Regions from separate parts of the Homo sapiens genome. Here region 1 is linked to region 2. Evidence: fine-mapped expression QTL. A gene starts in region 2. The other region holds a variant in brackets. All regions are shown on one strand. Distances are between the middles of the regions.

Region 1 (16,184 bases), 30 kb before region 2:
AAAAGTGCAAATGGAACACTTAACAAAATTAGCCAAATCTAGGACTTTAAAGCAAATAGTCATACATTTCTGAGGATTGAAATCACAGAGTATCTTCTCTCCCTTTTGAGCTGGAAAAGGACAAATATATATATATATATATACATATATATATATATATGTATATGTATATGCATATATATTATATATACAATACAATTACTCAACTTTCAAGTAGACTTTAAAAAACATGGGTAGGGATCACCTTATTTCCCTTCATCAGTCACCAGTGTTCTCTTAACATACTGGAAGAGGCTGGAGATATCCACATCTACAACTCAGGATTCCTATGTTCTGTTTGTTCAGTTGTGCTCCCCGCTGCCTCTGCCACACCAAATACGTGAGTTTGACTCCTAACCTCTCATCTCTATTCTACTTAAAGATGGTTTCTTTACTGGGATACTCAAGTTAAATTACATTCATTAGGAGATATCACCACTGATTTCACAGAAATACAAACTACCGTCAGAGAATACTATAAACACTTCTATGCAGGTAAACTAGAAAATCTAGAAGAAATGGATAAATTCCTGGACACATATACCCTCCCAAGTCTAAACCAGGAAGAACTCGAATCCCTGCCTCTGCCGGGTAAAAGTCATGGGGAAGGCACTTGTATTCTGGGCTCTACGTCTGTCCTTCCTGCCAACCACCCATTCTCAGGCACTCACTAGAAACTTAATCTAGCATAGGACTTTATGTCTGTCGAGGCCACTTACTCATGAAGCGACCTTGGTAGCGGTTGACACAATTTGTCTAATATAATTCAAAGGAGAATCAATGCCTGCACATCCTGGAAGAGGGCTAGGAGGGGAAAGAGTGAGGACTACACTCATGTGCATTACACACATAGCCGAGTGCCTGCCACATGTTACCCTAAGGTGCCCAATGAAAAATGGTTATGATGGCTTTTATTGTAGTGCTGGATGCTGGAAGGTGAGAAAGGATGAGATGTGGCCCCCATGGTCTGTGACATTGCAACTGAGGGGCAACTAGCACAGGAATGATCCCCAATGATTATCAAGAGAAGGCAGCATGTGATCAAGGCCGCCATGCCTGCATGCTGGGGGTTCGGAGGGGAGGAAGAAGTGTAGGCGGGGAACTCACCACAGGCCCGCACCAGACACTGCACTTAGCATGCTATATCGACTCTCTCTTTCCTTCCTCATCACAATCCGTCTGTGGGGATGTGGCAAACAAGTATGCCCATGTCACAGTTGGAGATCTGGAGACTCATGAAACGAGCAGTGGCTCTAGGCTGGGAGGGTCAGGACATCTTCACAGGGGAGTCAGGATTTGAGCCAAGACCTGAAAAGTGAATAAAATTCAGTTAGGGAGACGGTGGGTGGGGGCAAGGAGGTGGTATGGGAAGCCAGGTTCTGTGGCAGTGAGTGGAAATAACTTGTCACAAAGCCCCGAGTGGGTAGTGCCCCAAGCCGGGAGCACTGTAAAGTTGCTCCCCAGCAACTTCCCGTCAGGACTCAGAGCAGCATTATCTCTACCGCTTCACTAACATGTGGCTCAGGACGGGAAAGTCATTGTCCCTTATCTCACTGTCAGCTCGAAGCAAACAGATGGGGCCCAGGTAGCCAGGAGAGCGTGTTCATTCAGCTGTCTGGCACTGGATCCCACCCCCACCACCTGCCATTGCCTGAGGGCACAAATCTCGGAATTGGGACCAGGTACAGCCGGCATTCATTGGTTGCTGACTATGTATCTGGCACCGTGTCTGCATCATCACCCTGGATCTTCACAACCACCTTCTAGACCCCTGTTCCACAGAGGAGGAAACTGAGGCTCAGAGAGGTCAAGCCACTTGCCAATCGCAGTACAGCTAGTAAGAGATACAGCTGGGGTCTCAGCCCAGGTCTCCTCTGACTCCCAAATCGATGCCCTCAATCACTCTTTCTGTCGAGTCCGGTCCCACTAGCTTACATGAGTCCTATGACCCAAACAGACGTTCTCAAGGTGTTGTGTCGCTTTCCCATGTTAATGCAGCCTAGCCACACCAGTTGCCTCCAGAAAACAAAAGCACCAGAATGTCAAAGAGAAGAAATCATGAAAAAGATGCTATTAAAAGTAAATCAGTCTCATTGCCCACGAATCTTTTTGTCCCAAAACACAAGGGACGTTCTTATTCTATTGCCAGATCTTTCCCCAGAAGGGTGGCCACACATCCTGATTTTGCCTATTGTGCCAGCCCAATTATTCGTAGTTCCCCATTCCCTCCAAATGCTGCCCTCACATATATTCAACAGGAAATTGCTTGCTCACCCTACCTATGAAAAGGCAAAGAAGCCTCACACATCAGGTCTTTGGCAACCCTGACACACCATGTTGAGCGAGGATCCTCAGCTCTTCCAAGAGAGAGTGGGCTCCTGGAGGAAGAAATAAGGAATAAACAGATGAGGAATATGATTTAGAGAGGATCCTAGTACAACCCAACTTGTCTGGAACTGGAGTAGTCAGAGAACAAGGGTGGAAGAATGCGTGGAACGCAGACCTCGCTCTAGTTGAGAGTTGGCAGGGTTGAGCACTTGCTCTGCGGCAGGTGAGTGTTGGGGAGCAGGTCGACCGACACCCACAGTGATTGCCAAGCAACGAGACCATCGAATCGCCTCCAAGGCCAGGAGGCTTGCTGATAGGCTCCCTGCGTGGCACTTCATTCAGTCAGATGTGGAGTTGCTGGCCCGTGACATAAGCCATGGGGTGACTACAAAAGGCCATCCCGCTGGTGGTCAGCCATCATTGTCCGTTCCTCACATCCACTGGCAGTTGCCTCCAAGATGGCTGAGCCTTCCTCTGAGACAACCTCCAATGAATGCCTGAACATGAAAGATCCCACAGCAGCCGAGGCCACTATGGCCCACAAGCAGCAGAAGACAAGCAGCTGATATTTCTGGGTTTTCACCTTTTCTTGTTTGTTTTGTTTTCGTTAAAGTAAAGGTACCTTTTCAGGTAAGTTTCACCAAGATTATGACACAACCAAGGATGCATGAGGTGTCTCCAAAGAGGAGGAAAATAGATTTCACAAGGTGGAGTGGCCTTTGTTGTTATTCCCACATGGGGCAGTTTGAGCAGACACAGGAGGTTATCTTTGTTTTGGTCAGATTTTTTGCTCGTCACTTTTGTCAAGCCAAATTTTAAGGCTAACTGTCACACCATGATGTGTCTTTTTATATGTTTAACCTTTTTATCAACTGGTTAGAATGAGAAATCTCTAAAATCCTTTTAATATAATTTAGCGGGTTAATTTAGAGGATCAATCTATTGGTTATTGACAATTAGAATTCTCAATATTGTACTGAAGTTCAATAGCGACTGGATGCCATATCCTCTTCAGAGAAGAAGCAATCCCAGAGTTTCCTCTTGTTCCCAGACATAGGCTAAGATAACAAATGACTCGGGGGATAGCAGTTTGCCAGCACACGCTGGGTAGACCAGCGGTCCCCAACCTTTTTGACACCAGTGACTAGTTTCAGGGAAGACAATTTTTTCCATGGAATGGCATTGGGGGTGATGGTTTTGGGATGACTCAAGTGCATTACACTTATTGTACACTTTATTTCTATTATTATTATATTTTAATGTGTAATGAAATAATTTTACGACTCACCATATTGTAGAATCAGTGGTAACCCTGAGCTTGTTTTCCTGCCACTAGACGGTCCGATATGGGGGTGATGGGGGACAGTGACAGATCATCAGTCATTAGATTTCCATAAGGAGTCTGCAGCCTAAGATCCCTCAGTCCCCAATATATATATTAGACTCCTGACCCCTCATCTCTCTCCTACTTGAAGTAGGTCCTTAACTGGGGTACTCAAGTTAAATTACATTCATTAAGGTGTGCTCTAACCAAAATGACTAGAATGCATTCTGCATACCATAAGGGGAAATTCAGACACAGAGACATGCGTCCAGGGAAGAAAACGTGAAGTGGCATGGGGATAAATGGGCCACTTACAAGCCAAGGAAAGATCCCTGGAAGAGATCCTTCCCTCTTACTACTCAGAAGGAACCAACACAGCTGGCACTTTGATTTGGACTTCCAACCTGCTGAACCGTGAACAATAAATTTCTGCTGTTTATGCCATCAGATCTGTGGTACTTTTTCAGAATAGCCCTAGCAAACTACTAGAGACTCTGTTGCCAAGCAGTGGGATGATGCAATAAGGAACCTCCAAAGATTGGACGAGGCCTCGGAACTAGGTAATGCATACAGGCTGGAAGTGTTTTGACATGCATGACACAAGAAGCCTAGAGTGACTTTAGGAAACAGCGGAGGGAAATATGAACACCAAATGCAATTGAAACGAGGGCTAAGAAGAATTATTTGCTGTAGAGAAAGGATCTCTGACTTAGAGAATACATGTATCATGATCACCGAAATGTTGCTAGAACTATGTGTGTTAAAGGTGCTTGTGGCGTGTTTGCAGACGGAGACTACGAAGAGGTTATTGGAAGCATGAGGAAAGGCCATCCTAGTTTTACAGTGGCAAAGATTTGGGCTGTATTGTGTTCTTAGTGTCTTTGAGGAAAGCAGAATTTGTAAGTGATGAACTTGCACATGTAGCTGATTTCTAGTTTTGGAGTTCAGGGCACAATACCAAAAAATGGGGGCTTCAGAAGTATTTTCAGATAAAAAAGATTTTCTCTGACATTCTTGGTCCTCCTGTCTCTCAGTCCCATTCAACCTCAGGGGCTAAACCCAGGAACCAGAATCCTTCTTCCCGAAGGTGGGTTCTAGAAACCAGAAGCTCTTTTTTATAGTCACAAAACCAAGAAATGATATTGTAATATCTTCCACATTTTCATGTAAAAACTGTCCATGAAGAAATGATCTAACCTATCTTCTTTGAATGGAAGTCAGAAGACCCCCATTCCAGAGAGGGTCCTGCCCCGTATCCGGGAGGAAGGACTGTGTGCTCAGATAGGCCAAGCAGAGTCTAGACACACAGGCCTTGCCAGGTTTCCCCCACTCAGCCTATTCGCATTAGATCATAGTCTTTTTGTCCCATCATATTTCTACACAGATGTCCATATTCCTTTAAGCCAAGGCATAAAAATGGATAATAATTTCCCATGTATCTTTGGCTATTAACACTAAAGACTCCCAGGGAGACACATTGTATAAGTTGGTATGCCTTATGTCCTATGGATCTGCCTTTTGTGACTTGAGTTTTCAGTGAAACTTAAGAGGACAAGGGGGGAATCTTGGCCACTACACTGACAAACTGAGAAAAGTATTTAGGATTTAATCTGGTTTCTCCTAGATCTGTATAGTGAATGGGAGAGAAGAGAGAGAAATTAGCAAAGGAAGAACTGAGTAAAAGGAAGTCAGCATTGGATGACTCAGAAGGTACTCAAAAGATGCAGATACCTTGCTCTGGAAATAGGTGCAAGGGTGTGCCTGGAAGACCGTTAGCTAAAGAGGGGAGGTATGTGTCTCACAGATCCAATCAACTGTCTCTGCAGAAGTTAGGAATTGAAATATGGAAGATATTGGTATTCACGAAAGATCTTTAGACAACTTCTTGTCTGATGGCCTGGACGCATGTGAATTCCGTGGGAAGCCAAGAATTTTTTGAGAATTTTACAGCAGAAAAACATTGCCAGACTGGACTGAACGGGACAAAGATGGGACGAAATTCAAGGAGGCTGTTAGAGTTCCTGGACTGTACCGGCAAGAAAGGGACTGACTGAGGCACCCAGCTGTGACCATTTCTTCATTTTCGAGACAGGGAGGAAGGACTCCAAAGTTGGGTCAGAGGTTGGCATGGCCGTCACTGCCCCCAAGAACCAGGGGCACGGTACTAGGGGACTGGGCCATCTCTCTCTTGGTCCCAGAAATGGAGGTCACCTCCTGAGTTCCAGGCATTTGTCCCACCTCCTCGGTTTCAGAGGGATGGGCTGCAGCAGCC[C/T]AGGCTGGGGGGAGAGCCCCCACCCGGCTGCCCAGGGCTTAGGGTGTGAAGCTGTTACCCCATTGGGCCTGAAGGACAGAGCACTGAGCCCAAGCAGAATCTTTTCCATCTTTAGAATGTAACGGAATTTGCCCCCATTAGGTTTCAAAAGTGCTTAGGGCCCACGTACTCCAGTAGTTTTTCGGATTTCCTGCTTTTGGTATGATAAGCCCTATCTGGTATCAGTCTCACAACTGTCTTTCAGAAGGAGATAACTTGTCTAGCTTCACAGATGCAGTGGTGGAGAGAATTCCCGCCTCAGCATGAATCATACCTGGAGGCTCACCCATTCCAGATATAGAAGATTATCAGGTGAGATATTAGAGAATTGACGTTGGAGTGAGTTAAGTCTTCAGGGATGTTGTGATGAAATGAATGTATTTTCTATGTGAGGTTGTTAATTTGTGTCACGGAGTGGTGCAGAAGGTGTACTAGTATGTATGGAGTTGTGTCTCCCTACAATTCAGAGGTAGAAGTCCTGGCCCCCAGTGTTTTAGAATGTGACCTTATTTGGAGAGAGTCTTTAGTCAGGTCATCTGGTTAAAGTGAAGTTATGAGGGTTGACCTTATCCAACAGGATTGGTCTCCTTACAAAATGGTGACAATTGTAATCCAGAACTGTGAGATAAAAAATACATAGTGTTTAAGTCAGCCAGTCTCTGGAATATTTTTCAGCGGCCCTAGAAAACTGATAGAATACACCTCCATCAGAAGCATTGAAAGCATACAACCCATCGAAGAGCCAAAGAAGCACACCCATGTAATCACAGGTTTCCCCTTCAACTCCCATTGAACATCCCTGGACAACTAACTCTACCTATTTCAGACCGGGAAACCTGATCACACATTGGGCCATGGCCCCTTGGCTGCAGTTGCCTCACTGGCTGACACGGATCTGAGTGGAGCTTGTGCTGCTCCATTGGACGGCATTCCATCATCCCCATGATGCACTGAGGCCAGTCATGAAGGTTTTCTTAAACAAAAGATTCTAGCCTGAAGAAGAGCAGAATCAGGTAAATCTAAACAAGTGAGATTTCATTACGAAGGAGCCTAGAATAGGTATTGTTCCTTAGACTTTTTGATGTAGTTTTCTCTGCCGTGTTTGTGTCCTTGCTTATATTTTCAAATGAACTCCAGGTTACAGGGAAGGCTGATCAAATGTTTGACTGGACTCTCTTTATCCCATTCATGCTGTTTTCCCTACATTGATACTTCTTATTTGTTGTTTAAGCAGTAAAGGTCTTTCCCGTAGTTTGCGTTTCTTTAAGTCACAGCATGACATCATGATTGCCTAATAGGTTCCGCTTCTGCTCAATGACCCAAAGAAATACCATATCAAATGTGTGAGCTTCCTCCTCCGATCTTCACATCAATCCACCCCTTTCCTCTTTCTTCCTGTAATTCACCGGCATCAGTCCCCTTGCCCCCTCACTCTTCACTCCCCACAACCAAATCAGATTTCATTGTTAACCCTGTTTTACTAATGGCCCTCTTTGATTTCTGAATTTACAAAGGGAAAACACATATTCCAAGGTAAAATATCTCAGTGGATTTGGTTTCTCAAAAGGACTTGTCTAATTACACACATATGCAAGGGTAACTTCAGAAATTTATTCGTATGTCTTAATTCACAGAAACATTGGCATTTTACAGCAAAACAATTAGCATAATGAGAAATAAGTCACTGAGTGAGATGTGGTGTTTTGTCAGGTACACAGCTCTGTCTCTGGGAAGAAGCAGGGTTCTGGCAAGGGTCTTTGGTTTGGCAAGGGTTGTTCCGGACTTGTAGGAACATTTGGTGGCACCATCCAGAAGGATTTACTTGCAGCTGATTTTGTGGGGTTTTTCTTGGTCTCCTCGTGCAATAAGCACAACTTCAACTATTTTCATAACATTTCTCTTCAGCTATTTCTGTAATATTTTTCTAATAATCTGGAAAAACAGAAAGTAACAGATCCCAATGAGTGGACTTCTTGGTTCTATATCATTTCTCTATGGATCCCAAGTGGAGCTCTGGAGGTGACCTTCCCCTCTTCCCATCTGCACTACTCAGGGAAGCTCTGGCTACCATCTTGCCCTGACCCTGTTTCCCTCTTGACCAAGGGGTCCTCTTTAAATGGTGGAATAATCTATGTGGCTATGTGTTGGGCCCTCTGGGGTGGTTCTTTCCCACTTCTGATGGGCTCAAGAAAATTTTGATTTTTGTCATTTATCCAGCTTTTGTTTCATGGTTTGACTGAGAGTGCCATCCTTTACTGGTTTCTACATATGAAGGAGAAGGGTTGTTTATGAGATGTTTCAAAATTTACGGGAAACATTTAACAAAAATGGCCACATGTTGAGCTTCAAGGCACAACATAATAAATTCCTGTGGGTTGCAGTCCCAGAGTATGTTCTCTTGTCCACATACTCGGGCGACTGGAAATCAATGGAAAAGGAAAGCAATGGGAAAGTGAGCACCTGCTCTGAAATTCAGCAATACACTTATAGAAAAAAATGCTTAAAATGCCAAGACTTGGGACCCAGAAGAGAGCACAATGAAAGGTAGCCTATATTAATATTAACATGAATATAAATATGCTAATCTTTTGAGGAAATAAGCCTTATCTGACTTCTACTAATGGTTGCCAATGTTCTGTATAACTTGATGTTAGGGACAAGGTACATATTCTAATCTTAGCTTTGGATTCATATCCCTAAAAGATCATGATTACAAGCAATGCAAACAAAAACATCAGGTAAAGAATCACACTGCCGTTCCTTTAAACACCAGGTTGAATATAACAGGAAGGCTGCTGTGGGTTCAGCTTGGGTCACTCCCCCCACATTGGGTCAATGACTGTTGCTCATAGACTGCAGGTCACTCATTGGCTGTACCACTGTACACTAGGGCATGAGCTGTTTCCGTGGACACTCCGTAATCCTACTGACACACACCTGGAAGTAAGGAAGGTTTCTGTTCAAAAAGAAATGAAAAAATTACTGTCAGTACAAAAAGAGAATGAATTACAATAGTGGTCTCAGAGTCGGGGAAGCTGGAAAACGAATGGATTCTTGAAAATTTTATTTAGCCATATATATACTGTAACTGGGCCTCGTTTGCTTATTTACATGGATTCATGATGAGAGAGATGCTGAACACATTTAGGAGGGTTACCTTGCTTCTTGTATCAGCATATTCACTTTCTCTGTTGCCATATCGCACATAATGAAGTTCTGGAAAATCCCACCATCCAGTCGTAGGAGAATGAGAGTGAAAAAGGTAAACATCAGTACATTGATAACATCATCATAAAGATAACCTAGAAAGATAACTAAGAAAAACGGCCATTTGGGAAACTGAGGACACGAAACACGATTACGGAAACACCCCCTACTTTTCCTTGGAGCATATTGCACTACAGATATATTGGAGTTGACAGTGTTTTGCACTGTGGGAAAAATGCTTGAAAAACCGCAGGAGGCCACACGGCACATGCCCCCCAAGCTGGAACGGTGCCACCCACACCAACCTCCGGTGGGGTCCCCCCCTTGGCGGGCCACTGGCCTATAGGGCCACGGGCGGTGGTTCTGAATAGAGCCTTTGGGTTTCCCAGGTGCTCAGGCGCTCCTGAGACAGCTCACTTGCTTTTGGTGTACCTGAGGGCGGCATTCGTGCCCTGGGCCTCGGCGAGCTTGCCCATCTTCCCCGGCAGCAGCAGTCGCACGGCCATCTGGATGTCCCGGGAGGTGATGGTCACGCGCTTGGTGTAATGGGCCAGCTGACCAGCCTCGGTGGCGATGCGGTCCAATATGTCATGGATCATAGAATCCATGACACTCACGGCCTCCTGGGAAAGGCTGAGGCCCTGGTGAACCTGCTTCAGCACCCGGGGGAAATAGGGGGTGAAGCTGTCCCCGAAGCTGTCCCCACGGCGGTTGGCGTGGCGCCTGCGGGAGCCTCGGCACCCTCGCCTCTTCTGCTTCTGGGCCTTCGTGGAGTTGGCCTCTTTGGGCTCCTGGATGCTCTGGCCTTCCTCCGAGGTTGTCTCAGAGGAAGCCTCAGCCATGGCGGAAGCAGCGGCCATTAGATAGCAAGAACAGAGAGTGACGGTTGGGGACCAGGGAAGTGGGGGGCACTTTGGTATGGTCGCATGGCTCTACGTCACATTCCAACTCGACATCTGATTGGATGAAGTGTCACCAAGGGCGCCTCTCAGCAATCTTCCCTCCATTGAAGGTGATCGGATGATCCTGTTGCTTGGAATCATGTCAGCCAATCACAGAGGGCGTCTGCCCGCCTAAGTGGCCGGGTTGCCTACCTCAGACAAAGGTACACAGAGTCTTGCTCTGTGGCACACCTGCAGTGCAGTGGTGCGGTCTCAGCTCACTGCAACCCCTGCCTCCTGGTTTCAAGTGATGCTCCCTCTTCAGCCTCCCAAGTAGCTGGGAGTAGAGGCGCGTACCACCACACCTGGCTAAGTTTTGTATTTTGTGTGTGTGTATGTGTGTGTGTGTGAGAAACATGGTTTCTTTATGTTTCCTCAGGCTGGTCCCAACTCCTGGACTCCAGTGATTCTCCTGCCTTGGCCTCCCAAGCTGCTGGGATTACAGGCATGAGCTATTGTGCCTGGCAGAGAAAACTTATTTCAAGAAAATAAAACATGATGTTGATACCCATTGAAGGATGCACACTACAAAAATCTGAGAACATTTATAAACTTGGTTACAAAACTCATACCTGAAATATTATAAATTAAATCACATTACACACACACACACACACACACACACACACACAAAGGGAAACAGTTTACTGCTGTAAATAACAATTTAGAAGCATCAAACGGGGCAAACATTACTAATGGAACAAGCAGACCTCATATAATCTTTTTTCAACATTACCTCTATTATACAATTCATTTAAATACATAACAAAAACCCACAGTGCAGAAATAGCTAAATCAAAAATTCAATGAACAGCACCCCTTTCAAGCTTCCGAGAAAATAAAGTAAGGACTCTAACTCATTCACATTTGTCTAATTCTATTGTTTCCCAGTCTACAATCTTTTTTAATGCAAAGCTTAATGTCCTGTGAGTATGCATCACTTACGATGGAAGTATCCAATGAGAGCACCCAAACCCCACTCTCCACTGGCTCAACTAATGAAGTGTCTTCAGCCCTGGGCCTGAGCCACTGGCTCAGAATGTGAGCAGGTGACCAGTCCTGAACCAATAAATGCCCTCCTAGCTGTTCAGCCTTGTAAATTGAGGAGAAAATTAGTTTGAGGTTTTTGTCCACTTTTTATTTCTTTGTTTGATTTTTCGTTTTATTGTAATTGTGGTGAATTAAAGATTTGAATCCAAAGCTGTGAGTAAGCATGTCTCCTACCTCTGGCATCATATTATGAAGGCAAGTTCTCTGAAAAGGAATTTGGAGGAAAGAGACTATTCCTGTGAACAGCTTGCACACCAGGGAGGGGCAGACTTCAGTGTAAAACAAAGGCGAAGTTCCAGAGAACTAAAAGAGGATATGGCTTTTATAGAGAAAGTTCCCATCGAGGTTCTCAGTACAGTCCATTCATGCAAATAAAGGATTCAAAATTAGTTCTGATTGGTTGACTCAGTTGATCTCTGATTGGTCAACACGACTGAGCCCTGATTGGCAGGGGCAGGTGAGCTCTGGCTGGTTGGTTCAGGTGACCTCTGAAAGTTGCAGAGTTAGATAGAGGTATGGGCTTTTGGGGAATTCCTAGTACATGTGTGAGCTCTAGTCTGCACGTGGCAGCTTGCTTGGCTCTAGTTTAGATTTAGGCTCAGTCACTGGGATCCATCTGGAAAGACTGGCTCTTTTAGGTTTACATTTGTCCACAAGTTTAATAAAATGATAGTGACCAATTAAAAAAACTAGGACGACTCTCCTTTTTTTTTCAATTTGATTGTTGTGGGGCTTTTTCACTTTCAGGCACATGTGTCTGACAAAATTAACCCACTATGGTAATTTGAGACAATAAAAACACTTACTTCAGTACAAAGCTTTCTCCAAAATATGATTGGCCCTGATTCTTGATGCAATATAATAGTCTTCCCCTTTCATTAGACTGTCACTCTGCAATAAGGGGGAAGGAGTGTGGAAGTGAGTGGGGGCACAGAAGAAGCTGTAAAGGGTGGCTATTTCCTCTTTTTCCTTATCCCAGACATTTTCCCTAGTATAGTGACCATGTGTCCTGATTTCACCTGTTGTCCCTTAGTAATTCTTAACAGCATCCCCTTTCACTCTGAAACATGTCCAAATTTACAAATCTGTACTTCCCAATGTAACTAGAACATGCAGGAAGTTGTGAGTGTAGTAGATCTCAGATCTTTGTTGAATGAACAGATAAATAAATGAACCTATGTTAGATAAGAGACTGGCCCATGACAACCTATGAGACCATTGCTGAATTCTGTGGCTAGTCCACACGACCCATCGGGACCTCTTGGGTACAGTCCCCTTTCCTGTTCTGCACTTAAAAGGAATTATTTCTCTACAAAGCTGTCTGAGTCCCCGTGTTAAACCCATGAGAATGTCAGATTTTGTTTCCTCCATGATCTGCATATCACATTGACTCCTCCCAATAACTCTTTATGGTGTAGATATTTTAGCCTCAACTTTTTGGCAGACAAGAAACACAGTAACTAACAAACGTGTCCAGTGATCACACAGCTGATAAATGGAAGAGCAGAAATTCAAATCCACGTCAGTCTGAGTCCAGAACCCAAGCACTTGAACGTTGTCTCCTGCCATCCTCTCTCATACTGCGGTGATGGCACCTTCAACGCATGAATACGTAGGTAGACAGTCTGAGGTGAGCCTCCCCTTCACAACAAGTCTTTACGTAGTTTGATCTTTCCCTGAAGGCAACGTGATAAATTCAGAGGTGTAAAAGCAAAAGCATCAAGTTAGCCTTCCTGCAAATGTATACAAGAAACCTGATTTTCTCGTGCAGCCACGGGAGTTTCTTCAAGCAGCAGTTAGCAAATTCAACCATGCCTGAGCTCAATTGTGTGTTTCAATAGCTGTCTGAAACAAATGCATAGCCATTCCATGTTGCACAATTGTGTCCAATGCAGATGGACTCCAACTTAGCATGGTTCAACTTAAAATTATTTACCTTTGTGATAGGTTTAACTGGACTTAACTCCATTGTAAGTTGGGGAGCATGTGTTTAGTCTGTTGCAGATTGGTGAGAGACAGGGTGGGAAGCAGTGAGTGGGGAAAATTTTCAGGTTAGGGTTATACAGTCATTACCCGATGATCAACATTTAGCTCTGTGATGGCCAATTTCATGTCTTGTCTCGTCTTGTCTTTCCAACCAGGGGGAGATTTTTTTCCCAAATAAGCAAAGATAGAGATCTAGGTAACTCGGCTTGGTTGGGTTACAGTACCTAGATATGTGGTCAAATTTTATTCTCAATGTTTGTGTGAATGTCCTTTTCGGTAAGATTAACATTGAAATCAATGGATCTGAGTACAACAGACTGCCCTCCATATTGGCCTGAATAGACCAAAAAGACTGACTTCCCCCAAGCAAGAGTAAATTCTGCAACAGACAGCCTTCACACTTGAACTGCAACATCGGCTCTCCCATGGGTCTTCAGCCTCATGGTCTTTAGACTTAAACTGTCACCTCAGCTTGTACCTGGGACTCTAGGCTGCCAGCCCACCCTGCAGATTTAGGACTTGCCAGCCTCCATAATCACATGAATCAGTTTCTTACAATAAATCTCTCTCGACAGATAGATGGATAAATATCCTATTGGTTTTATTTGTCTGGAAATCCCCTAATACAAGCTTTCTGCACCAAAACATTGCTGCAGAGATCTGTGTGTTTTTCCCACATGTAAAATATCCACTTAAATATGAGACGTTTTCGTGATTCCATTAATCAATACCTTTGCCTTTGATTAGTGACTACACTGTTAAGTCAGTAGTTTTTCCTGGATCTTAAGAGATGTTTCTTCATCATTTGATATGACTGGGGACAACAACGTATTCAGTTCAATGGTAAAGTTGATGACTTAATTAAAATTATTATCACTGAAAATAACAATCCCTTGAACATTGGTAGAGTCCAGGTGGCACGTGCTAACCAGAAGAGTGAATGAACTTACCCTACTTCTGACCTTGCCAGTTAATTGCACTCCCTTTCATTACCACCCATATAGCTGATACTCATATGGGTTGGTGTCAATTAAGCCAGGCATTGCTATAGTAATAAAAAGAGGCACCACTGACTGAATGGTGACTGTGCCAGGCATTTTTCTAAGTGCTTTACAGGTAATTGCTTCAATTACCTTTCACAAGATCTCCGTGAAGTAGTGTTATTATCTCCATGCTTATGGATAAAGAAACTGAACCACGTAAGAGTGTCACTTGCCCAAGATAAAACAGGTAGAATATTACCGAGGGAATAATCAAACAAATTTCTACACATTTAAGCTTCTGCTCAGAAAAAGAAGATATCATCAGAGTGAACAGGCAACATACGGAATGGGAGAAAATTTTTGCAATCTGTCCATCTGACAAAGGTCTGATACCCAGAATCTAAAAGAAACTTAAAGAAATTTACAAGAAAAAACAAACAACCCCATCAAATGTGGGCAAAGGATATGAGCAGATACTTCTCAGAAGAAGACATTCATGTGGCCAACAAACATGAAAAAAAGCTCATCATCACTGGTCGTTAGAGAAATGCAAATCAAAACCACAATGAGATACCATCTCGTGCCACTTAGAATGGCGATCAGTAAAAAGTCAAGAAACTACATATGCTGGCGAGGCTGTGGAGAAATAGGAACACTTTTACACTCTTGGTGGGAGTGTAAATTAGTGCAACCATTGTGGAAGACAGTGTGGGGAGTCCTCAAGGATCTAGAACCGGAAATTCCATTTGGTCCAGCAATCCCATTACTGGGTATACACACAAAGGCGTATAAATTATTCTATTATGAAGACACAAGCACACGTATGTTTATTGCAGCATTATGTACAATAGCACAGACTTGGAACCAACCCAAATGCCCATCAATGATAGACTGGACAAAGAAAAGTGGCACATATACACCATGGAATACTATGCAGCCATAAAAAAAGAATGAGTTCATGTCCTCTGCAGGGACATGGATGAAGCTGGAAGCCATCATTCTCCACAAACTAACACAGGAAGAGAAAACCAAACACTGTATGTTCTCACTCATAAGTGGGAGTCGAACAATGAGAACACATGGACACAGGGAGGGCAACATCACATGCTGGGGCCTGTCAGGGCTGGGGGACAAGGGGAGGGAGAGCATCAGGACAAATACCTAATGCATGCGGGGCTTAAAACCTAGATGACGGGTTGAGAGGTGCAGCAAATCACCATGGCACATGTGTACCTATGTAACAAACCTGCACGTACAGCACGTGTATCCCAGATCTTAAAGTAAAATAAAAAGAAAAGAAAAGAAACAAACATAGTAACCCCGGGAAGAAAAGATGAAAGCATTTTAAACACCAGTTTAGAGATAGTGGAATAGAGATTTAGTGAATCACAAGGTAGATAAAAATAATTATACACGATACTGCATACAGGGAACGAAGAAAGAAAAGATTAAAGAGAGGCAAGGAGACTAAAGGTGTGGTCAAAGAAGGTAGGATGAACATCATATGGGCATTACAGAAATGGAAATAAGAGTGAATTTTGCGAAAATAATATTCAGAGAGAAATGGCTGGTAATTTTCCAGAATAAAGGAAACACATGATTTGCGATTCAGGAAACACACTTGTACACACCATACTAAAGCTACAGAAAAGTGAAAACATAGAGATCATAATAGCTGAGAAAAAACGCATTGCCTTCCGGGGAATAATGAAGAGTTTGTCAGCAGACCTCTGTCTGTCAATGAACGGAAGCCAAAAGCAAAGTCTGAGAGAAAATACTGTCAACCTAGAGTTGCATTCCTAGCTAAAGTATCATGAAATAATAAGGAGGCTGTGATAGACATGCAGGAGAACCACCCAGAATCCCTGTCAAGGACGGATTTGATGTTTGTGAGGCTGGGAGTGCAGGCAGGTGCCAGTCAACAGCCACTTGTCCCTGAGGACACTATCTGAGCTGCCTTGCTCTAGCTCATGCCCTTCCCGAGGTGGACCACATGCAAGGACAAATCCAGGAAG
Region 2 (16,184 bases):
TTGGCTCAGAAATCAACTTCTCACCTTGGGAGAGGCGGAACGTCACAGATATAGGGGATCTTTAACGAAGGGATCGGGCATTGAAAGCAAGGGGAGGAATACTCATGTCTTTTGTCTGAATAAGTGCAGAAATTCTCGAAAACAGAATGCCACCTACTTTATTGCCCATTCATGGTTTCTTTCAGTCGTTGTCACGGTGATTGTCAACAGTCATGGCGCTGGTGGGCGTGTCAGTTCGTATAAGAATTAGATTGTAATGAAGTTCCAGGTTCCTCTAAGATCAATTGAGCTGCCGCATTACATCCCATCAGTCTCAGCCGGCTTGGTCATGATGGGGAAATTCTGATGTCAGGCATCCTGTTTCCTAAAGACAAGCAGAGTTAAGGCAGGGTAGAAATTTATCTAGGTCGTGTAGGCATTACATTGGGTAACAGGTCGTCTCCTCACTCTATTATTTATTCTTTTTCTGTAAAAACGTCTTTAATTTGACACTATCACATTTGTCTACTTTTTGCTTCTGTTGCTGGGCTTTCAGGGTCATATCCAAAAAATCATTGCCCAGGCCTATGTCATGGAGCTTCGCCAAAGTATGAAAGTTGAATGGCTATAACACAAAATTAAAGACATTTTAAACAGCAGATTAGGCACAGTTGGACAGAGAATTGGAGAATGAGAAGACAGATGTAAAGTAACTGTGAAAATTTCATAGGGACATAACATGTGAGAAAGGAGTGAGGAGAACTGATAAACCTTAAGGGTTTGACTAAAAAGCACAAAGTATATCTTATAAGTAATACTGGGCAAGTTGGGAAGAATTCTAATCAAAGGGAAAATAGCTGGTAATTTTACAGAATTGAAGGAAGACATGATATCCTACCTTCAGGGAGCACACCTGTACCCATCCTTCTAAAGCTTAAGAAAAGTAAAAACAGAAATCACAATAGCTGAGAAAAGAAAAAAAGACAACTACAAGGCCTATAAAGGAATAACAAATAGTTTGACAGCCAACCTCCTTCTATCAATAAATAAAAGCCAAAATCAGAGGAGATGTGTGTTAACACAGAATGTCATTGCTAGCTAAAGTATTATTTGAGAACGAGGCTGTGGTAGGCGTGGACGAGCCAGCGTCCCCTTTAAGGATGGATTTGCTGTTTCGGGTGTTGGGAATGCAAGCAGGTGCCAGTCCTGAGCCATTAGTCCTTTCCAGTATTACCATAGCTACTCTTAGCTGCCTTGCCCATACACACTGCCTGATCCAGGAGAAGTCGAACGGTCTGGTATTTTGGCACAATGGCGAATACCCTGATGGGCCCCTTTATCTTCAGATCTCACCCTGGGATCAGAATAGGATTCCACTGGCCTTGCACTCGAGGTGAACTTCTCCCTATGCCCACTCCTGCCTGCCTCCAGACCCTTCCTCAGCTATTGACCCTGAATAAGTTTCCCACACACTAAACTTTATTTCAGAGCCAATTTCTTCCAGGACCAAAGTCAGAAATGATGATATTTGAGAGAAATGGAAAACTCTTAGTGTGGATACCAACAAAAACTTTGTTAAAGAAATTTCTGAAGAATGTCATTTAAAGAGATGTAAAGTGATCACAAGAAGATGACTGGAGGTGCCAAGAAGGAAGGGTAATAGAATAAATTAACAAGAGGAGTAAAACGATGATTGTATAAAACTGACGCAGGAGAAATACAACAACAGAAAAAGAAAACCCTTCAGTCTGATATCCTTGATGAACATCGATGCAAACATCCTCAACAAACTACTGGCAAACCGAATCCAGCAGCACACCAAAAAGCGTATCCGCCACCATCACGTGGGCTTCACCCCTGGGACCCCCGTGATGCAAGGTCAGTTCAACATACGCAAAGCAACAGTTGTGATTCATCACATAAACAGCACGAAAGAGAAAAACCACATGTTTATCTCAATAGCTGCAGAAAAGGCTTTTGATAAAATTCAACACCACTTCATGTTAAAAACTCTCAGTAAACTATGTACTGAAGGAACGCACCTCAAAATAATAAGAGGCATCTATGACAGACCCACAGCCAACATCATACTGAATGGGCAAGAGCTGGAAGCACTCCCCTTGGAAACTGGCCCAAGACAAGGATGCCCTCTCACCACTGCGATTCAACATAGTCTTGGAAGTTCCAGCCTGGGCAACCAGGCAAGAGAAAGGAATAAAGAGCATTCAAATAGGAAGAGAGGAAGTCAAAATCATGTCCCTGTTTTCAGACGACATGATCCTATATCTAGAAAGCCCCATCGTCTCAGCCCCAAAGCTTCTCAAGCTAATAAACAACTTCAGCAAATCCTCAGGATACAAAATCATTGTGCAAAAATCACCAGCACTCTTGTACATCCACAACAATGAACCCGAGAGCCAAATCACGAATGAACTCCCATTCACACTTGCCACAAAAAGAATAAAATGCCTAGGAAGACAGCTAGCCAAGAAAGTGAAAGATCTCTACAAGGAGAACTACAAACCACTACTTAAAGAAATCAGAGGTGACACAAACAAATGGAAAAACATTCCATACTTATGCATAGGAAGAATCAGTATCGTTAAAATGACCATACTTCCCAAAGCACTTTACAGATTCAATGTTATTCCCATTAAACTACCGTTGACATTCTCCCCAGAACTGGAAATAATATCCTGAAATTCACGTGAAACCAACAAAAGAGCCCGAATAGACCAACACAATCTTAAGCAAAAGGAAGAAAGCTGGAGGCATCACACTACCTGACTTCAAACTATACTCCAGGGCTACAGTACAGGTACAAGAACAGACACACAGACCAATGGAACAGAATAGAGAATGCAGAAATTATTATTATTGTTGTTGTTGTTATTATTATTTTGAGACAAACCCAGAAATTAAGACTGCACGCCTACAACTATATGATCTTCGACAAACCTGAAAAAAAGCAAGCAATGTGGAGAGGATTCCCTATGGAATAAATAGTGCTGGAGGTGCTGGCTAGCCATATGCTGAAGATTGAACCTGGACCCCCTTCCTTACACCGTATACAAAAATGAACATGAGATGAATTAAAAACCTAAAAGTAAAATCCAAAACTATAAAAACTCTAGATGACAACTTAGGCTACACCATTCGGGACATGGACACCAGTACCAGGCAAAGATTTCATGACTAAGATGCCAAAAGAAATTCCAACAAAAGCAAAAATTGACAAATGGTATCTAACTAAATTAAAGAGCTTCTGCACAGCAAAAGAAACTCTCAACACAGTAAACACACAACCTACCGAATGGGAGAACATTTTTGCAAACGATGCATCTGACAAAGGTCTAATATCCAGCATCTGTAAGGAACTTAACCACATTTACAAGAAATAAACCAACAACCCCATTAAAAAATGGGCAAAGGACATGAACAGACATTTCTCAAAGGAAGACCTACATAGGGCCAACAAGCAAATAAAAAAAAACGTCAACATCACTGATGTTAGAGAAATGCAAATCAAAACCACAATGAGATACTGTCTCATATCAGTCAGAATGGCTACTATGATGAAGTCCAAAAATAACACATGCTGGCAAGTTTGCAGAGAGAAAGGGACGCTTATGCACGGTCTTTGGGGGAGCGTAAATTATTTCAACCATTGTGGAAGACAGTGTGGCAATACCTGAAAGACCTGAGGTCTGAAATACAATTCGACCCAGCAATGCCATTACTGGGCATATACGCAAAGAAATAGAAATCGTTCTATTATACAGACGTGTGCATGCGTATGTTCATTGCAGCACTGTTCACGATAGCAAGGACATGAAATCAACCCAAATGCCCATCAATGATAGGCTGGATAAGGAAACTGTGGTACATATACACCGTGGAATACTATGCCTCTATAAAATAGAACGACACCATGTCCTTTGCAGGGACTTGGATGGAGCTGGAGGCCATTATCCTTAGCAAACTACTGTAAGAACAGTGATATGGTTTGGCTCTGTGTCCCCCACCCAAATCTCACCTTGAATTGTAATTTCCATACTCTCCCTGTGTCAAGGGTGGGACCACATGGAGGTGACTGAACTGTGGGGGTGCTTTCCCCCATGCTGTTCTCATGATAGTGAGTGAGTTCTCACAGGATCTGATGGTTTTAGAAGGGGCTTACCCCTTCGCTCTGCACTTCTTCTCCTTCCTGCCACCACGTGAAAAAGGACGTGCTTGCATTTCCTTCCACCATAATTGTAAGTTTTGTGAGGCCTCGCCAGCCCTGTGGAACTGTGAGTCAATTAAATCTCCCTCCTTTATAAATAACCCAGTCTCGGCTATTTCTTCATAGCAGCGTGAGAACAGACTAATACAAGCAGCAAACCAAATAGTGCATGTTCTCACTTGTAAGTAGGAGCTAAATGATGAGAACACATGGACACATAGAGAGGAACAACACACACTGGGGCCTATCGGAGGGTGGAGAGTGGGAGGAGGGACAGGATCAGGAAAAATAACTAATGGTTACTAGGCTTAATGCCTGGGTGATGAAATAATCGGCACAGAAAAGCCCCATGACACACGTTTACCTCTCTAAAATACCTGTACATTCTGTACATGTACCCCCGAACTTAAAATAAAATGGAAAACACCCTGATGCAATAAAGATTATGACTATATTAAAAATTAAGGAAACAGGCAGGGCGCAGTGGCTGATGCCTGTAATCCCAGCACTTTGGGAGGCTGAGGTGGATGGATCACTTTAGGCCAGGAGTTCAAGGCCAGCGTGGCCAACATGATAAAACCCCGTCTCCACTAAAAGTACAAAAATTAGCCGGGTGTGGTGGCGCATCCCTGTAGTCTTAGCTACTGGGGAGCCTGAGGCAGGAGAACCTCTTGAACCCAGCAGGTGGAGGTGGCAGTGAGCTGAGATCGCACCAATGCACTCCAGCCTGGGTGACAGATTGTTGTCTCAAAAAAAAGAAAAAAAAAGAATTAGAGAAACAAAATAAGGACTATATATTACAATTTTGCATCACGTAGATGATGGGAACATCCTGTGAGAGCAGCTCATGCCATAGTCACCACTGGCTCAGGCAATAAAGGCTTTCCAGCCCTTGAGGCACCACAAGCCATGGCTGAAAGTGTGGGGAGGTGACCCGGAAATGAACCAGTGAGAGCCTCCCTGGGAGGTTTAACCTTGCAGATTGTGAAGAAAAACGATGTGGCTCTTTCCCTGTTTTTTGTTTGCTTTTTTTTTTTTAAGAAAAATATCATGCTGACTTACTGATATGAATACAGAGATTGTTGTGGACAGGTCTCTTGTGCCTTGTACCAAACTACGAGAAGGATTGTCTTGCTAAACGTTTAAGTAGATTTATAAGATCATCATTTGTAAAGGGGACTGTTCAGAAATGGTGTACTAGAGTTCAGTCACAGAGCTTACCATATACGATCTTATCTAACAACAAAAATGAGCCTTTTTGTCCTTCTTAATCGTGAACCAATTTATTAGGAGTAGAATAAGTTGTTTGCTAAAGACATGACAGGAAATACACTTGAAAGCCTGACCTTTGAAATGACAGTTCATCGATGACCTTTATTTCTTCAGCATTTCTTAAGAATCTTTCTTGTTCAATTCCTGCAACTTAATGTTACTTAAATGCATTTAAGGAATGCCTTTGCGTATATTATCAGAGACTCTTGAAAGCTCTCTTTCTAACTTGAACATAATTTCCATTTCTGGAATCCCTTTCTCTCCCTCAGGGGCTTCCTAGGAGATTTAAGGCGATATTTTTTAACCCAATATCTCTTAAACTTATTAGCCATTTCCAGCTTTTGAGTTGTGATTTGTGGTTGTTGTTTTGCTTTCCTTTTTTTTTTTTTAATTATTTTTTTAAACCTGGTCGATGTCGAGTGTTGTCATATGTTTTTAATAAAAGTGCCTTTCTGTTTCTATTGTCTGCTTGGAGGCTGGGGTATGGCCATTTCTCATTCTCCTGATTCACGGAAGATGTTGATCAGTACTGAAGCCCGGAGCCAGACCGCTAGGTCCTTTGATGCCCAGGCGGCCATGTCAGGGAGTTCCTGCTCAAGCCAGGGTGGCTTAGCCCAGGATAACAGTAGCTTCTGAGATGGGTGACAATTGTTCCACACGTGGCCACAGTCATTCTTCCGGCATAATGGACTTGGGCTCAGGAGGTCTGTCTCTCCTCAGGGATCATGAGCTGAAATTGCTAAACTTTGGGAGTTTTCAGTGACACCCTTCAAAGTGCTCACAGTGTGGCATGGATCAGCTGAGAAGGGCGGATGCGCTTTTGCCCCGTGAGGCATCTATCTGTGTAACTTTCTCCGAGCTGGGCCACAAGGGGCGCTTAGGCCCGCAGACGCCCACTGTGATTGGTTGACGAGATGCCACGCAACGGGACCATCCAGTCACCTTCAACGCAGGTAGGTTTGCTGAGAGGCTCCCTGCGTGACACTTCATCCAATCAGACGTGAAGCTGGCCCGAGACGTGGAGCCATGCTGCGTACCGAAGTGCCCCGGCTTCCCCGGTCCACAACCGCCATTGTCTGGTCGTGCCATCTAATGGCCACTGCCTCCGCCATGGCTGGACCTTCCTCTGAGACGACCTCTGAGGAACAGCTGATCACCCAGGAGCCCAAAGAGGCCAACTCCACTACGTCCCAGAAGCAGAGCAAGCAGAGGAAGCGAGGGCGCCATGGGCCCCGCAGGTGCCACTCCAACTGCCGCGGGGACAGCTTCGCCACCTATTTCCGCCGGGTGCTGAAGCAGGTTCACCAGGGCCTCAGCCTTTCCCGGGAGGCCGTGAGTGTCATGGATTCTTTGGTTCATGACATATTGGACCGCATCGCCACCGAGGCTGGTCACCTGGCCCGCTCCACCAAGCGCCAGACCATCACTGCCTGGGAGACCCGGATGGCTGTGCGCCTGCTGCTGCCGGGGCAGATGGGCAAGCTCGCCGAGTCCGAAGGCACGAAGGCTGTCCTCAGGTACACCAGGAGCAAGTGCGCTCCCTCAGGAGCACCCGAGCACCACGGGAACCCAAAGGGTCTTTTCAGAGCCACTGAATGTGGCCTGAAAGACCAGTGGCTCGCCAAGGGGGACACCACCGGAGGCTGGGGTGGGTGGTGCCCTTCCGACTTGGGGGGCATGTGGCGTGTGGCATCCTGCAATGTTTCAAGCATTTTCCCCTCAGTACTAAACATTGTCAGCTCCAATATATCTGTAGTGCAGTTTGCTCCAAGGAAAAATAGTGGGTGTTTCCGTGATCGTGTTTCATTTCCTCAGTTTCGTAAACGGTCATTTTTGTTAGTTATGTTTCTAGGCTATCTATATGGTGATATTATTACTGCACTGATCTTTACCTTTTTCTGTCTCATTCTCCTGTGACTGGATGGTGGAATTTTCCAGAACTTCACTGTATGCCATACAGCAACAGAGAAAGTGAATACGCTGATACAAGAAGCAAGGTAACCCTCCTAAATGTTTTCAACACCGCTCCCATCACGAATCCATGTAAATAAGCAAATGAGGCCAAGTTACAGTGTACATACAGCTAAATAAAATTTTCAAGAATCCGTTCATTTTCCAGCTTCCTCGACTCTGAGATCACTATTGCAGTTCATTCTTTTTTTGCCATGACGATAATCTTTTCGTTTCTTTTTAAACAGAAACCTTCGTTACTTCCAGGTTTGTGTCAGTAGGCTTAGGGAGTGTCCACAGAAATGGCTCATGCCCTAGTGTTCAGTGGTGTAGCCAATGAGTGACTTGCAGTCTATGAGCAACAGTCATTGTCCCAGTGTGGGGGCAGTGAACCAGGCTGAACCCACAACAGCCTTGCACTGATATGCAGTCTGGTGTTTGGGGGGACAGGGTTGTGATTCTTTACCTGATGTTTTTGTTTTCAGTGTTTGTAATCATGGTCATTTAAGGATATGAATCCAGTGCTAGGAGTAGTATATGTTCCTTGCCCCTAGCATCAAGTTATGCAGAGGATGGTCAGCCTTTAGGAGAAGTCAGATAACGCTTATTTCCTCAAGAGATTTGCATATTAATATTCATGTTAATGTTAATATAGGTTAGCTTTCATTGTGCTTTCTTCTGGGTCCCAAGTCTTTGTATTTTTAGCACTTTTTCCTATGAGTGTATTGTTGAATTTCAGAGCAGCTGCTGACTTTCCCATTGCTTTTCTTTTCAGAGGATCTCCAGCCGCCCGAGTATGTGGACCAGAGAACATACTCTGGGATTGCGACCCATAGGAATTTATTGTATTGTGCCTTGAAGCTCAATATGTGGCCATTTTTGTCAAATGTTTCCCGTGAATTTTGAAACATCTCATAAACAACCTTTCTCCTTCATATGTAGAAACCAGTAAAGGGTGACACTCTCAGTCAAACCATGAAACAAAAGCTGGGAAAATGACAAAAATCAAAATTTTCTTGAGCCCATCAGAAGTGGGAAAGAACCACACCAGATGGCCCAACACATAGCCACATAGATTATTCCACCTTTGGCAGAGGACCGTTTGGTCAAGAGGGAAATGGGGGCATGGCAGGATAGTAGCCAGAGCTTCCCTGAGTAGTGCATTTGGGCAGCGTGGGCAGTTCACCTCCAGAGCTCCACTTGGGCTCCGTAGAGAAAGGATGTAGGGCCAAGAAGTCCCCTCATTGGGATTTGCTACTTTCTGTTTTTGCAGAATATTAGAAAAATGTCATGAAAATAGTTGAAGAGAAATGCTCACTGCACAAGGAGACCAAGAAAAACCCCCCACGAAATCAGCCACAACTAAATCGCTCTGGACGGTGCCGCCAGGTGACCCTACATGTCCGGAGCAACACTTTGAAAACCAAAGACGCTTGGCAGAACCCTGTTCCTTTCCAGAGACAGAGCTGTGTACCTTGTCTAAAACACCGCATCTCACTCAGTGACTTATTTCTCATTATGCTAATTGTTTTCGCTTTAAAGCGCCAGTCTTTCTGTCAAATGGGACATACAAATAAATTTCTAAAATTATCCTTGCATGTCTACTGGGTAATTTGACATGTCTTTTTCAGAAACCGTATCCATTGGGATATTTTACCCTGGAGTGTGTGTTTTCCATTTGTAAATTCAGAAATGAATGAGGAGCATTAGTAAAACAGCGTTAACAATGAACTCTGATTGGGCTGTGGGGAGTGAAGAGTGAGAGTTCAAGGGGACTGATGCCGGTGAGTTATAGGAAGAAAGAGAAAAAGGCTGCTTTGATGTGAAGATGGGCAGAGGAGCTCACACATCTGCTATAGCATTTCAGTGGGTGATTGAGGAGAAGGGGAACCTAGTGAGCAATCGTGATGTCAAGCTGTGGCTTACTGAAAACACAAAGTAAGGGAAATAGCTTTACGGCTTAAACAACAAATAAGAAGTATCAATGTATGGAAAGTAGGATGAATAGGACAAACATAGTCCAATCAATCTTTTCATCAGCATTCCCTGTACCATGGAGTTCATTCGTAAACATGAGCAAGGACCCAAAGACAGTACAGAGAAAATGATATAAAAAATTTTAAGGAACAATACCTATTCTAGGCTCCCTAGAAATGGAATCCCACTTGCTTAGATTTGTCTGATTCTGCTCTTCTTCAGACTAGAATCTTTTGTTTTTGGAGACCTTTATGCCTGGCCTCTGTTCATCATGGGGATGATGGAATGCTGTCCGATGGAGCAGCACAAGCTCCACTCAGATCCTTGTCAGCCAGTGAGGCACCTGCAGCCGAGGAGCCACAGCCCAATGTGTGATGAGGTTTCCCGGTCTGAACTAGGAAGAGTTACTTGTCCAGGGATGTTCAATGGGAGTTGAAGGGGAAACCTGTGATTACATGGGTGTGCTTCTTTGGTTCTTCGATGGGTTGTATGCTTTTAATGCTGCTGTTGGAGGTGTATTTTATTATATTAGTTTTCTAGGGCCGCTGCAAAAATATTCCAGAGACTGGCTGACTTAAACACTATGTATTTTTCATCCCACAGTTCTGGATACCTATTGTCACCTTTTTGTAAGGAGACCAATCCTGTTGGGTAGGGTCAACCCTCATAACTTCACTTTAACCACATGACCTGACTAGAGACTCTCTCCAAATAAGGTCACATTCTAAAACACTGGGGGCCAGGACTTCTACCTCTGAATTGTAGGGAGACACAACTCCATCCATACTAGTACACCTTCTGCATCCACTCCGCGGCACAAATTAATGTCCTCACATAGGAAATACATTCATTTCATCACAACATCCCCAAAGACTTAACGCCCTCCAACGTCAATTCTCTAATATCTCACCTGATAATCTATATCTGGAATGGGTGAGCCTCCAGGTATGACTCATGCTGAGGCGGGAATTCTCTCCACCACTGCACCTGTGAAGCTAGACACGTTGTCTGCTTCTGAAAGACAGTTGTGGGACTGGTGCCGGATAGGGCTTATCCTACCAAAAGCAGGAAATCTGAAAAACTACTGGAGTACGTGGGCTCTAAGCACTTTTGAAACCTAATGGGGGCAAATTCCGTTACATTCCAAGGATGGAAAAGATTCTGCCTGGGCTCAGTGCTCTGTCCTTCAGGCCCAATGGGGTAACAGCTTCACACCCTAAGCCCTGGGCAGCGGGGTGGGGGCTCTCCCCCCAGCCTGGGCTGCTGCAGCCCATCCCTCTGAAACCGAGGAGGTGGGACAAATGCCTGGAACTCAGGAGGTGACCTCCGTTTCTGGGACCAAGAGAGAGATGGCCCAGTCCCCTAGTACCGTGCCCCTGGTTCTTGGGGGCAGTGACGGCCATGCCAACCTCTGACCCAACTTTGGAGTCCTTCTTCCCTGTCTCGAAAATGAAGAAATGGTCACAGCTGGGTACCTCAGTCAGTCCCTTTCTTGCCGGTACAGTCCAGGAACTCTAACAGCCTCCTTTCATTTCGTCCCATCTTTGTCCCGTTCAGTCCAGTCTGGCAACATTTTTCTCGTATAAAATTCTCAAAAATTTGTTGGCTTCCCACGGAATTCACATGAGTCCAGGCCATCAGACAAGAAGTTGTCTACAGATCTTCCTTGAATACCCATATCTCCCATATCTCAATTCCTAACTTCTGCAGAGATGGTTGATTGGATCCGTGAGGCACATGCCTCTCCTCTTAGGCCAATGGTTTTCCAGGCACACCCTTGCACCTGTTTCCAGAGCAAGGTATCTGCATACTTTGAGTACCTTCTGAATCATCCAGTGCTGGCTTCCTTCTCCTCAGTGCTTCCTTGGCTAATTTCTCTCACTTCTCTCCCATTTACTGTAGGCATCTAGGAGTAACCAGATTAAATCTAAATACTTTTCTCAGTTTGTCAGTGTAGTGGCCAAGGTTCCCCCTGGTCTTCTTAAGTTTTGCTGAAAGCTCAAGTCACAAAACGCAGAGCCATAGGACATAAGGCATACCAACTTATTCGAAGTGTATCCCCAGAGGCTTTAGTGTTAATAGCCAAAGATACATGGGAAATTATCCATTTTTATGCCTGGGCTCAAAGGAGTATAAACAGCTGTGTAGAAATACGATGGGACAAAAAGGCTATGATCTAATGCTAACAGGTGGAGTGGGGGAACCCAGCAAGGCCTGTCTGTCTAGACTCTGCTTGGCCTATCTGAGCACACAGTCCTTCCTCCCGGATATGGGGCAGGACCCTCTCTGGAATGGGGGTCTGGTGACTCCAAACAACATAGGTTCGATCATTTCTTCATGGACAGTTTTTACATGAAAATGTGGAAAACATTACAATACCGTTTCTAGGTTTTGTGACTATCTTTAGAAAAAAGAGCTTCTGGTTTCTAGGACCCACCTTCCGGAAGAGGGATTCTGGTCTCTAAGTTTAGCCCCCGGGGCTGAATGGGACTGAGAGACCAGAGGACCAAGAATGTCAGAGAAAATCGTTTTCATCTGAGACTACTTCTGAAGCCCTCATTTTGGGATAGTGTGCCCTGAGCTCCAACACTAGAAATCAGCTACATGTGCAAGTTCATCACTTACAAATTCTACTTTCCTCAAAGACACTATGAAGACAATACAGCCCAAACCTTTGCCACTGTAAAACTAGGATGGCCTTTCCTCGTGCTTCCAATAACCTCTTCCTAGTCTCCGTCTGAAAACACACCACAGGCACCTTTAACACACATAGTTCTAGCAACATTTTGGTGATCATGATATATGTATTCTCTAAGTCAGAGATCCTTTCTCTACAGCAAAGAATTCTTTCTTAACCCTCGTTTCAATGTCATTTGGTGTTCATATCCCCCCCGCCGTTTCCTGAAGGCACTCTAGGCTTCTTGTGTCATGCCTGTCACAACGCTTCCAGCCTGTATGCATTACCTAGTTCCAAGGCCTCTTCCAATCTTCCGGATGTTCCTTATCACATCATCCCACTGCTTGGCAACAGAATCTCCAGTAGTTTGATAGGGCTATTCTGACAAAGTACCACAAACATGGCGGCATAAACAGCAGAAATTTATTGGTTACATTTAGGCAGGCTGGAAGTCCAAATCAAAGCGCCAGCTGGGTTGGTTCCTTCTGAGTAGTAAGAGGGAAGGATCTCTTCCAGGGATCTTTCCTTGACTTGTAAATGGTCCACTCTTGCGCATGCCACTTCACATTTTCTTCCCTGGATGCATGTCTCTGTGTCTGAATTTCCCCTTTTGGTATGCCGCAGAGCAAGTGCTCAACCCTTCCGACTCTCAACTAGGGCGAGCTCTGCGTTCCACGCATTCTTCCACTCCTGTTCTGCGACCTCTCCAGTTCCAAACAAGCTGCGTTGTACTAGGAATCCTCTCTAAATCATATTCGTCATCTGGTTATTCCTTATTTCTTCCTTCAGGAGCCCACTCTCTCTTGGGAGAGCTGCGGATCCTCGCTCAGCGTTGTGTGTCAGGGTTGCCAAAGACCTGATGTGTGAGGCTTCTTTGCCTTTTTCATAGGCAAGTGAGCACATAAGTTCTTGTCTAATAAATGTGGGGGCAGCTTTCAGAGTGAATGGGGCACTACGAATCATTGGGTGGGACAATAGGCAAAACCTGTACGTGTGGCCACCCCTCTGTGGAAAGATCTGGGGATAGAATAAGAACATCCATTGGGGTTTCGAACACAAAGTTTGGTGGGCAATGAGAGCGATTTACTTTTAATAGCATGTTTTTCATGATTTCTTCTCTTTGACATTCCTGTGCTTTTGTTTCCTGGAGACAACTGGTGTGGCTAGGCTGCATTAACATGGGAAAGAGACACAACACCATTAGAGCGTCTGTTTGGGTCTTAGGACTCATGTGAGCTAGTGGGACTGGACTCGACAGCAAGAGTCATTGAGAGCATGGGATTGGGGGTGAGAGGAGACCTGGGCTCAGACCCCAGCTGTGCCTCTTAGAGGCTGTACCGTGTTGGGCAAGTGGCTTGACCTCTCTGAGCCTCAGTTTCCTCCTCTGTGGAATAGGGCTCTAGAAGGTGGTTGTGAAGATCCAGGGTGATGATGCAGACGGGGTGCCAGATACATAGTCAGCAACCAATGAATGTCGGCTGTACCTGGTCCCAATTTCGAGATTCCTGCCCTCCGGAAATCACAGGTGGTGGGGGTGGGATCCAGTGCCAGACAGCTGTATGAGCACACCCTCCTGGCTACCTGGGACACATCTGTTTGCTTCGGGCTGACAGTGAGATAAGGGAGGATGATTTTTCCCCCCTGAGCCACATGTTAGTGAAGCAGTAGAGATAACGCTGCTCTGAGTCCTGACGGGAAGTTGCTGGGGAGCAACTTTAAAGTGCTCCTGGCTTCGGGCACTAACCACTCGGGGCTTTGTGGCAAGCTATTCCCCCTCACGGCCAAGGAACCTCGCTTCCCATACCACCTCCTTGCCCCTGCCCACCGTCTCACTATCTGAATCCTATTCACTTTTCAGGTCTTGGCTCAAATCCTGACTCCCCTATGAAGATGTCCTGACCCTCCCAGCCTAGAGAGACTGCTCCCTCCTTGAGTCACAGGATCTCCAACCGTGACATGGGCACACTGTTTGCAACATCCTCACAGACGGATTGTGATGAGGAAGGAAAGAGAGAGTCGATGTAGCGTGCTAGGTGCAGTGTCTGGTGCAGGCCTGTGGTGAGTTCCCTGACTCTTCTTCTTCCTCCCTTCTGAACCCACAGCATGCTGGCATGGCGGCCTTGATCACATGCTGCCTTCTCTTGATAGTCATTGGAGATCATGTCTGTGCTAGTTGTCCCCTCAGTTGCAATGTCACAGACCACGGGGGCCACATCTCATCCTTCCTCACCTTCCAGCATCCAGCACTACAATAAACGCCATCGTAACCATTTTTCATTGGGCACCTTAGGGTACAATGTGGCAGGCACTCGGCTATGTAGGTAATGCACATAAGTGTAGTCCTCACTCATTCCCCTCCTAGCTCTCTTCCAGGATGTGCAGGCACTGATTCTCCTTTGAGTTATACCAGACAGATTTGGTCAACCGCTACCAAGGTCGCATCATGAGTAAGTGGCCCTGACAGGCATCTAGTCCTATGCTAGATTAAGTTCTAGTGAATGCCTGTGAATGGGTGGTGGGCAGGAGGGAAAGATGTAGAGCCCAATATAGCAGTGCCTGCCTTGTACTTTTACCAGGCAGAGGCAGGCCTGCTTGAGAGAAAGCTGTAGGCAATAAAGACATAGGACTCAGTGGGTCCTCGAGCTCAGGTAAGGGGATATAGTCCCTCCAGGACAGGGGGAGAAATGGAGAGGGGATGGTTCAAGCTAAACCTCAAGGCAGCTGTCCCAGGGAATTCCACAGTGGCTCCAGGATCCCCCAAAATAGTAGCAGATGACCCACCCACTGGCCATCCTCAAGGTGAACTGTAGAACAAGCCCGGGTCAAGAAAGCCTCCTTGGAAAAGGTCTGTTAGCCTAGAAGATGTTGAATCCCTTGGGAGTCCACAATGGGCATTTCACTCCCACAGATCCTTGGGAGAGAACCAGGCCACAAGATCACCCGTGTGACCTATGATGCAATGAGGAGACAGGCTCCACTGTGCTTAAGTGTCCCTTACAAGTAGAAGCCAGAGGAGCTGCACTCAGTGCTATTTATTCACCCGATGCCTAAGGTCATTGGGGAAGGTCCCAGACAGCTTGTACCAGCACGCCTGATGCCTTGGAGGGGCTGGCTGGAGGCCTGAGCTCAACCGGGCCTCTGCACCTCTCCAAGGCCCCTCAGAGCATATCACTGTGGTGTCTCCAGCAGGAGAGGTGGACTTCTTAGGGGGCAGCTCAGAGCTCTCAGACAGCCAGACAGAGGCCACTCTAGTCCTCTGAAAGGTTACCTCTGGGACAGGCTAAAGTCCGCCATTCTCCATGTGTCAAAGCCATCAACGGGCCTGTCGGGAGCCCAGAGGGAGGGGCAAGCAGACGCAACCAATGTGCCAATACGAAGAGCATTCAGGAATGGGCAGCCTTTCTGAGATGCAGCCTATTCAGCACACGCTTCTTGAGATGCTGCTGGGTGGCACACACAGAGCATGTGCATAAGAAGTGGTCCTTTAACTCTCTGGGTCGAAGGGGTAGGCTCTCAAATGGTTTTACACTGGACCTATCACTAGCAGGGTGACATCTCCCATTTAGTGGATCCTCCTTCTCCATGCCATAGTGATTGATTGCCCTTAAGTGACATGAAGTTTCTAACCATTATAGACACTCTTTCTCCCTTCTGTGGCCCTGGCCATACATAAAAAGACACACAGAATAACAGTAAGAAGAATATGGGGAGTCAGTACTTCTTAATAGGAGGTTGACTAGAACCTGGTCTCAATATCTGATCCTCCAGATTTGGGGCCCCCAAGTGTTCCCAATTCCCTCATCAACCTCTTCTTTCATGGCTCTCCAGAATCTGACACTCCAATGACAATCCGTCCCTCTCTATGGAGCCTACAACAGCACACATCTCAGCACGCATCTCAGAGGACAGGTTTCAGGCCACCGGAGGAATTTAGGAGTGAGAACTGCAGGAGCGATCTTATCCCTCGCTGTTTGAACAAGCACTGTGGGCCAATGGCCATGGCCCAGGAGCCGCAGGGCCTTCATGGACTGAGCCAGTGGAGAGTGGGGCTTGGACCCCTCTGACTGGATGTTTCCATCATCCGAACGATGCGTTAGTTCCAAG

Direction of the effects. Positions count from the first base shown, and alleles are read on the strand shown. Sizes are in standard deviations (SD) of each study's normalised expression.
As copies of T replace C in region 1, the expression in cerebellum of the gene that starts at base 6,455 in region 2 goes up (moderate effect, 0.64 SD a copy in GTEx).

What was found. PIP is the estimated chance that this variant, and not a neighbour inherited with it, causes the effect.
Region 1: its variant is the best candidate, but not a certain one, in a credible set for the expression of H2BW1 in cerebellum (GTEx, PIP 0.68).

What each region holds. Positions count from the first base shown.
Region 1 is chrX:104,033,862-104,050,045 of GRCh38, reverse strand. It overlaps H2BW2 (H2B.W histone 2), which reads right to left and starts at 10,090. Exons shown (of 4, transcript NM_001388464.1): 1 at 9,642-10,090; 2 at 9,160-9,218; 3 at 8,940-8,958; 4 at 7,592-7,934. The coding sequence starts at 10,051. The coding sequence ends at 9,182. The variant C/T (reference allele first, on the strand shown) is at 5,964.
Region 2 is chrX:104,003,979-104,020,162 of GRCh38, reverse strand. H2BW1 (H2B.W histone 1) reads left to right here and starts at 6,455. Exons shown (of 3, transcript NM_001002916.5): 1 at 6,455-6,993; 2 at 7,415-7,473; 3 at 8,700-9,016. The coding sequence starts at 6,587. The coding sequence ends at 7,451.